Regions from separate parts of the Homo sapiens genome. Here all the other regions are linked to region 3. Evidence: fine-mapped expression QTL. A gene starts in region 3. Each other region holds a variant in brackets. All regions are shown on one strand. Distances are between the middles of the regions.

Region 1 (2,763 bases), 110 kb before region 3:
AAACATTTCACACAGACTGATAGTTCTATTTTAACTTCCAATATATTAATATTCTTAAAATGTCTACCAAATAAGATTTGAGGCATCTGTGTCAACACTGTAAATTTATTAGAAATTTCCAGGTTGGAATGTAATAAAATTCTCTCTTACCCACATCTAGCCCATCTCAGTATTAAAGAGTTTAAAATCATTATTTTTTAAAAGTTCTTCTTTTGACTTACAAAAAAAATATTTGATTTTAGGTGAAAAAGTAACAAATCTATACCCAAATCCACAGCCTTTGTAGTGCAAATTATTTTGTCCTTCATTTATTATTTTAAAATTATTATTCTGGAGGACAGGCACAGTGGCTCATACCTGTAATCCCAGCACTTTGGGAGGCCAAGACGGGTGAATCACCTGAGGTCAGGAGTTCGAGACTAGCCTGGCCAACAGGGTAAAACCTGTCTCTACTAAAAATACAAACATTAGCCAGGCATGGTGGCATGTGCCTGTAATCCCAACTACTTGGGAGACTGAGGCAGGAGACTCACTTGAACCTGGGAGGCAGAGGTTGCAGTGAGCAGAGATCACGCCACTGCACTCCAGCAGTGAGACTCTGTCTCAACAAAAATAAAAATAAATAAATAGGCCGGGCACGGTGGCTCACGCCTGTAATCCCAGCACTTTGAGAGGCCGAGGTGGGCAGATCACAAGGTCAGGAGATCAAGACCATCCTGGCTAACACGGTGAAACCCCGTCTCTACTAAAAAACACAAAAAATTAGCCGGGCGTGGTGGCGGGCATCTGTAGTCCAAGCTACTCGGGAGGCTGAGGCAGGAGAATGGCGTGAACCCAGGAGGCGGAGGTTGCAGTGAGCCGAGATCGCGCCACTGCATTCCAGCCTGGGCGACAGAGTGAGACTCCGTCTCAAAAATAAATAAATAAATAAAATAAAATACAATAGAATAAAATAAAACAATTATTCTGGGATATTCTAACAATATGAAAGCTAAAGTATCTTGTCAGCCTGTTAGTAAGGGACGTTAAACAGCTTTAAGTCCTTATGTACATAGCAAATAGATTAATAAAAGAAGCAAATTACTTATATCTCTTATAAAAGCTGTCAAACATTTCTCTTATTTGCTATAAAAATATTCTTAAATGCAGGCCAGGCATGGTAACTCATACCT[A/G]TAATCCCAGCACTTTGGGAGGTGGAAGTGGGAGGATCACTTCAGCCCAGGCGTTCAAGACCAGCCTGCGCAACACAGGGAGACCCCATCTCTACAATAAAAAATAAAAGCTTATGCCTGTAATCCCAGCACTTTGAGAGGCTGAGGCAGGCGGATCACTTGAGGTCAGGAGTTCGAGACCAGCCTGGCCAATATGGTGAAACCCCACCTCTACTAAACACACAAAAATTAGCCAGGTGTGGTGGTGCGCACCTGTACTCCCAGCTGTTTGGGAGGCTCAGACAGGAGAATCGCTCAACTCTGGGAGGTGGAGGTTGCAGTGAGCCAAGATTGTGCACCGTATGTTAGCATGGGTGACAGAGTGAGACTCTGTCTCAAAAAAAAAAAAAGGAAAAGCTATCATTCAAATCATTCTTTTATTAATATCAGATAGTTTATCAGTACAAATAGTTTGGTATTCCCCACAGATGCTTCTAACACCACTGCAGTTAGACTCTAATGTAGTATTATTTTAATAGATTGTGGACTAAAAATAATTCAAATCTCTAGAAGTAAAATTAAGTTTCTACCTACCTGGCATTGTATGTTGTGAAAACAGCTGGTATTAAAAAATACATTAAGTATTTTGATGTAGCCTGACTTAAAATACAGGCTACAGGATATCCAACATCTGTGTATTTCCCTTAGAGGGGTTCCTCAGAGAGATGTGCAGAAGATGCCAGAATGTCTAAGATTGGAACATGGTATAGTCCAGGTAACTGCTAATCCAGAGAAACATGCTACACACATTAAGATGCATAGTCAGAGACAATAAACAAGTTTCAAACGTGAGCCTCAAATCCAAAGGCACAAGAACAAACATTCTGAATTGCAGGTGTTGATTTGCATTGGCGTGTTTCTCTTTTGGGAATGTGTAACCTGCTTCACGGCGATAAGCAGAGATTTGTTTAGTTATTGATGGTAAATTATTCTTCTAGAGGCCACTTAGTCAGACATCTGGGAGTTTAATCATCCGAAAGCTTTTTCATTATACTATATAACAATTGTTATTATCATTATTACTTTGAGACAGGGTCTCATTGTGTTGCTCAGGCTGGAGTGCAGTGGTACAATCAGCTCACAGAAGCCTTGATCTCCTGGGCTCAAGTGATCCTCCCACCTCAGCCTCCTGAGTAGCTGGGACCACAGGGGTGTACCACCATGCTCAGATAATTCTTTCATTTTTTGGAGAGATGGGGTTCTCACTGTGTTGCCCAGGCCACTCTCCAACTCCTGGACTCAAGTGATCCTCCTGCCTTGGCCTCCCAAAGCGCTGGGATTACAGTGCCTTGGGATTACAGTGCCACTATGCCTGCCTTAAAAGTTATTTTTAAAGAGAGAGCATATAACTGTGGGCAAGGAACCACTACAGTATTTAACAAAAAAGATGTGGGGCTGGTTATTGTTCTTCAGATTATTAAAATAATATTCCTAAATAATCAATTGTAAAGAACTATGATAAAGTCTTGCTTGTATCCAAAGCTCTCTCAATAGCTCCTCACAAGCTCAAGTTCTTCCTCCTTACTAAGCTTTGAAATGCATAGATTGTATT
Region 2 (2,763 bases), 250 kb after region 3:
ATCTAAAAATTTATGTAAACGTTAAAATTTTTCAAAGAATACAACAACAAATGCCACTCAAAAAGGCACTGGTGAACTTCAGTTTAAGCCTCAGCTATTTACATGAAGCTTACTTTGATAAGTCAAAGAACAGAAATAGAAACTCTAAAATCAAAAGTACCTATACTTGAATTCTGGCTCCAGCACACACCATGTGTATAAACCCTGGGGAGGTTATTTAACTTCTCTGAATCTCAGTTTCTTCATCTTAAAAGTCAGGATAATATATATTTCTTTTCAGAGCTTTGGGAGGTTAGAAATGATTACTATAATAATCCTGACACCACACACTAAAGTAGACATTCAATAAATGGTCGACTATTATTACTGTTCACTGATAGTATGTCTCAATCTAACAAATGGAAAAAGAGAATATTAAAAATAAAAAAAAAAGTTGAGTAATGGCAGCATACTTCTTTTACCTTCCAATCAAATATGGGCTAGAGTCACATCCAATTAAAGTTACTGACCTTATGTGGAAGATTATTGGCAGTGAACTTCACTGTGTGATAGGTAAGTAGCCACTTCAGCTTTTGGCTAATGTCTGCATACCATGTAACTAAATATGCAGCCATAGCAACAGATATATATGAATCTAGCACTATTCTTAACAAGAATGCTGACATTTGACTGAAAATCAGCAGTACTGAGGGAGGCACAAGGACCATTTTAATTCACAGAATACAAGAGGCTTGTATTTCACCCTGAGGTAAATCAATTCTGAACCTATCCTTCAAGAAAGAATGCCAAATCAAGGGGATGCTTTGGTAATTTGAGCTACACCCCTGTCTCATTCCCTGCCTTCACAGAAGTACAACAAATAAAATAGCCCCTGTAAAGAAAAAAGCACTAGATTTTAATTCATACTATAAATAATTATAGAATGTCAGAGAAGTCAAGCTCTGAGAGCTATATTTTCCTCACAGTGCAAAAACAGGAGCTGCTTAGAGAGTGTAGTTTTTAACAACAGAAAGTTTTATTTGGATTCCTTCTGGCAGATAATTTTTCTAGCATGAAAAGAAGAAGTGAAGGCATTGTATCTCCCAACCTAGGAATATGAGAAGTATCTGTCAGGTAAATGGTTTTGTGAATAATGCTGTAAGATCAATATTTTCTTCTTAAAACTGGAACAAATTTCAGCAACTCTAAGCTCAAGTCTGTCATTGGTAAATATGAAATGTAAAAGTATCTCTCCCAGAATTCCTAACTTTTATCATAGTTAAGTTTGCATGGGGTGGTGGGGTGGTCCACTAGGATCATTTAGAAGATTTGTAAAAGTGTAAAAAAAGATACTTGGTCCATTTAGGAACTAAGATTGTTCTTTAGCATAATGGATAGGAAGACATAAATTAATTAACCTTTCATATCCTCTATTTGGAAGGTACATGGTCTAAATTTAGAGCTATTTTGAGACATTCATATCTGGAATTAATTAAATAAATTTAGGGCTTTATTTAGACATTCAGATCAGGAATTAGCCATTTCCCCAAGAAGCTCTTGTTTCTTTTACTGAGAAAAGATATTTCAAACCCCAAATCAGTGAGCACTAGAGATGCTCTTTGCTACTGAGTTGGGCATTCTTTTCATGCCTCTTCAATGAACAGAGCTAGAAAATAAATAAATGAATGTATATACATATGCATACATATATATGTGTG[T/C]ATAAATGTGTGTGTGTATATTACATATACAGTTATCCTTGGTATCCGTTTGGGGATGGTTTCACTATCCCCAGATGGATACCAAAATCAGATGCTCAAGTCTACTAAATATCAGGGATATTGGTCTCTTCATCAGGGATATTTGTCTGTAGTTTTCTTTTTTTTTTATGTTCTTTCCTGGTTTTGGTATTAGGGTGATACTGGCTTCATAGAATGATTTAGGGAGGATTCCCTCTTTCTCTATCTCGTGGAATAGTGTCAGTAGAATTGGTACCAATTCTTCTTTGAATGCCTGATAGAATTCAGCTGTGAAACTGTCTGGTCCTGGATTTTTTTTTGTTGTTGTTGATAATTTTTAAATTATCATTAAATCTCACTGCTTGTTATTGGTCTGTTCAGGCTTCCTAATTCTTCCTGATTTAAGCTAGGAGGGTTGTATCTTTTCAGAAATTTATCCATCTCCTCTAGGTTTTCTAGTTTATGAACGTAAAGGTGTTCATAGTACCCTTGAATGATCTTTTGTATTTCTGTGGTGTCAGTTGTAATATCTCCCGTTTTATAATTGAGCTTATTTGGATCTTCCCAATCAATAGAATGGTCTGTTGATTTTATTTATCTTTTCAAAGAATCAGCTTTTTGTTTCATTTATCTGTTGTATTTATTTTTTGGTTTCTATTTCATTTAGTTCTGCTCTGATCTTGGTTATTTCTTTTCTTCTGCTGGGTTTGGGTTTGGTTTGTTCTTGTTTCTCTAGTTCATTGAGGTGTGATCTTAGATTGTCTATTTGTGCTCTTTCAGACTTTTTGATGAAGGCATTTAAGACTATGAACAACTTTCCTCTTTGCTGTATCCCAGAGATTTTGATAGGCTGTGTCACTGTTATTGTTCAGTTCAAAGAATATTTAAATTTCCATCTTGATTTCATTGTTGACCCAATGATCATTCAGGAGCAGGTTATTTAATTTCCATGTATTTGCATGGTTTTGAAAATTCCTTTTGGAGTTGATATCCAATTTTATTCCACTGTGGTCTGACAGAGTACATGATATAATTTCAGTTTTCTTAA
Region 3 (2,763 bases):
TTCAAACAAAACCCACAGCGATTTCTTTGAAAGAATGCCTGGACTGTGCTCAGAGCTCTCAGATTTTCTCAGGACCAACGAGCCGCCGCCTCGCAGATACCACTGTAAATTACCCAGCGCCTTACGTTCGTTTCTGATTATTTGCATTGCAGTGGGTTTGTTAATGAAGGACAAGAGTTTAGAAAAATCTTTTATTTTGGAAGTTGGACACGCAATCGACCCCAGCAGTGTTCCTAAAAGGAGCTATGCCATTTGGATGGGGGAAAAATGAGGGGGCGGGGAAGTCCATGTTACATTTAAAACAACAACAGCAACAAATTAAAAGCAAAACAAAACAACAAAAAAAAGGAAGTGGAGCAGGAGGAGGAGGTGGTGGTGGAGGAGAGGGAGGAGGGGCAGCAGCAGCGGCAGCAGCAGCAAGGATGGAGTCAGGACCCGTCCCAGTCCCGGGTGAGCGCTTTTGGATCTGGGTTCTGGCTCAACCCACGTAATGCCCCAATCTAAAGTTTTCTACGTGTGTGTGGATAGGAAAGTCTAAATAGAGTTTATCAGAACCCAGGTGGTCATTCTCTACACTCTCTCTAGCTTGGACCCGAAGAACAAAGGCACATGAGAGGAGAAAGGTGACCAGCTGGACGATGACGGTCACGTCCAAACGGATCCCCCTTGTCCTCGGCTCTCTCGTCCTGAGAGTGGGTTTAATTTTTTTTTTTTTAATTTATATAAGAAGGGAGCTCTTAAAGGAGAGCCATCTCCACCCTCAGGTATCCATCACCCAGCTCCAGCGCGCCTGGGAAAACCGCCCCGAAAGTCCAAGAGGAAGCTCAGAGTTGTAACGGCCGCGGAGCCAGCTCGGCGGTGACGCAAGGTCCAGTCCAGATTGCCAGGCCCGGGGCATGAGAGAGGATCCTTGTAGGTTTCGGAGGTGGGGGGGCTGCACTCCATTGTTCACTCCGGGCCAATCAGGGTTGGCCCACTTCCTCCCAGCCAATCTCCCTTCACCCCCAGCCTCCAACCCAACCCACCCCGCCCATCAGCCCCTGGATCCCCATCACCTCCCCCGCATCCCCGGCAGTTCTGGGGAAGCTTCGTGACGCCACAGGTCCCGCCCCCAGCTCCGGCCCGGGGCTAGTGCGTGTTGACGTCATGCTGCGTGCGGGCCGGTGCGGAATCGCTCCTTCAACTCCGCGGGGCAGTAGGAGTTAGTTAGCAAAGAGCCGAGGCCGGGCGCGCGACCCTCGTCCTTCTGCCCCTGGCCGCACACTTTGCGCACATCTCTTTTTCTGCATGGTGGATATTATTTTTCATTATCCTTTTCTGGGTGCTATGGGTGATCATTCCAAGAGTAAGTATTTCTGTGTGTGTGTGGGGTGGGGTGTGTGTGTATGCTTAATATGCAAAATTTCTAATGCAGAAAAATGTTTAGTGGATTCTACAAGTGGCTTCTATTTGTCAGAATAGTTTAGGAGAGGAAAAACGAATGCATGTCTCCTGCAGGACTGCTTATCTTTGGGAATCCTGTTGTTTTATTTTATAAGTAAACACTATTTCTCAAGCCGGCTAGGATGACTTCGGGCTGCGAAATCTGCTTCTGTTTTGCGCAAAGGCAATTAGGTTTGATTTAGGGATGTGGGTTTTTTTTTTTTTGGTTGTTGTTTGTTTGCCTTTCGGTTTTTCAAAGCTAGGAAGCTTTCTTTCGCTTGCTCTGGGATATTTAAACTAAGAAATGTCTGAGAGGATGAGCGGGGACTGCCGAAAGACGATGTGTCTGTGTTGGGATAGGAGGCAGCCGCTGTGAGTGGGAGTGTGTGAGCGGAAATGCCAGGACAGCACCGTTAGGTGTTGATATCCAGGCGTCCGCAGTGCCTGTGTATTTACTCTCTTCTTAGTTTCGTGTTTGCGTTTAGTTTCAAGACACGTCGACAAAACGACTGTCATTAATGAATGTAATAACGAAATATTTGGGGTGGGGGACAGAAGAAACCTTCAGCAATCCACAAGATACTGGTTTTTCGTTTCCAATGCCCTGGACCTTTAGAGAGCTCATCATCTTTCCTTATGGTCGCAAGTCTTGAAAGAAAGAGCAAGAGAGCGAGCGGGTTGGGTTGGGGCTGGAGTAGCCGAGGCCGGCCTGGGTCCGGGCAGTCAGGCCTGACGCGGCCCCGCGCCCTTCCCCGGCAGAGAAGCCCGGGACGGCCATGTGCGTGGGCTGCGGGAGTCAGATCCACGACCAGTTTATCCTGCGGGTGTCGCCCGACCTCGAGTGGCACGCGGCCTGCCTCAAGTGTGCCGAGTGCAGCCAGTACCTGGACGAGACGTGCACGTGCTTCGTGAGAGACGGGAAGACCTACTGCAAGCGGGACTATGTCAGGTGAGGCCGGCGGGAACGCGGGCTGGGCCACCGCGCGCAGGGGCCGGGGCCGGGACTGGGGATGGCGGCCTGCCCGCGCGCCCCGGCCCTGCCCAGGGAGAAGGCCATCCGCATCCCGCACGGGTGCCGCAGCGCTCCCCCGGGCCCGGGAATGCCCGCAGGCGGGTCACCGCAGTCTCCTGGTGGCCACAAAGTGTCCTGGGCGCGCGCCGGAGCCGTAGCAGCCAGGGAGATGAGGGCGGCCGCAGGCCCAGCGCTGACACCGCCGCACCTTGGGCCCGCAGGCTGTTCGGCATCAAGTGCGCCAAGTGCCAGGTGGGCTTCAGCAGCAGCGACCTGGTGATGAGGGCGCGGGACAGCGTGTACCACATCGAGTGCTTCCGCTGCTCCGT

Evidence for each region. PIP is the estimated chance that this variant, and not a neighbour inherited with it, causes the effect.
Region 1: its variant is the best candidate, but not a certain one, in a credible set for the expression of ISL2 in whole blood (INTERVAL, PIP 0.53).
Region 2: its variant is the best candidate, but not a certain one, in a credible set for the expression of ISL2 in whole blood (INTERVAL, PIP 0.51).

What each region holds. Positions count from the first base shown.
Region 1 is chr15:76,225,968-76,228,730 of GRCh38, forward strand. All of the region lies in intron 10 of ETFA (electron transfer flavoprotein subunit alpha), which reads right to left. Among named protein-coding and RNA genes, the nearest start is that of ETFA, 84 kb to the right of the region's middle. The variant A/G (reference allele first, on the strand shown) is at 1,173.
Region 2 is chr15:76,584,910-76,587,672 of GRCh38, forward strand. All of the region lies in intron 22 of SCAPER (S-phase cyclin A associated protein in the ER), which reads right to left. MIR3713 (microRNA 3713) reads left to right here and starts at 1,738; the gene lies at 1,738-1,782. The variant T/C (reference allele first, on the strand shown) is at 1,698.
Region 3 is chr15:76,335,597-76,338,359 of GRCh38, forward strand. It overlaps ISL2 (ISL LIM homeobox 2), which reads left to right and starts at 1,177. Exons shown (of 6, transcript NM_145805.3): 1 at 1,177-1,345; 2 at 2,182-2,371; 3 at 2,656-2,763. The coding sequence starts at 1,288. RefSeq lists enhancers at 912-1,206, 1,018-1,517, 1,211-1,260, 1,686-2,497.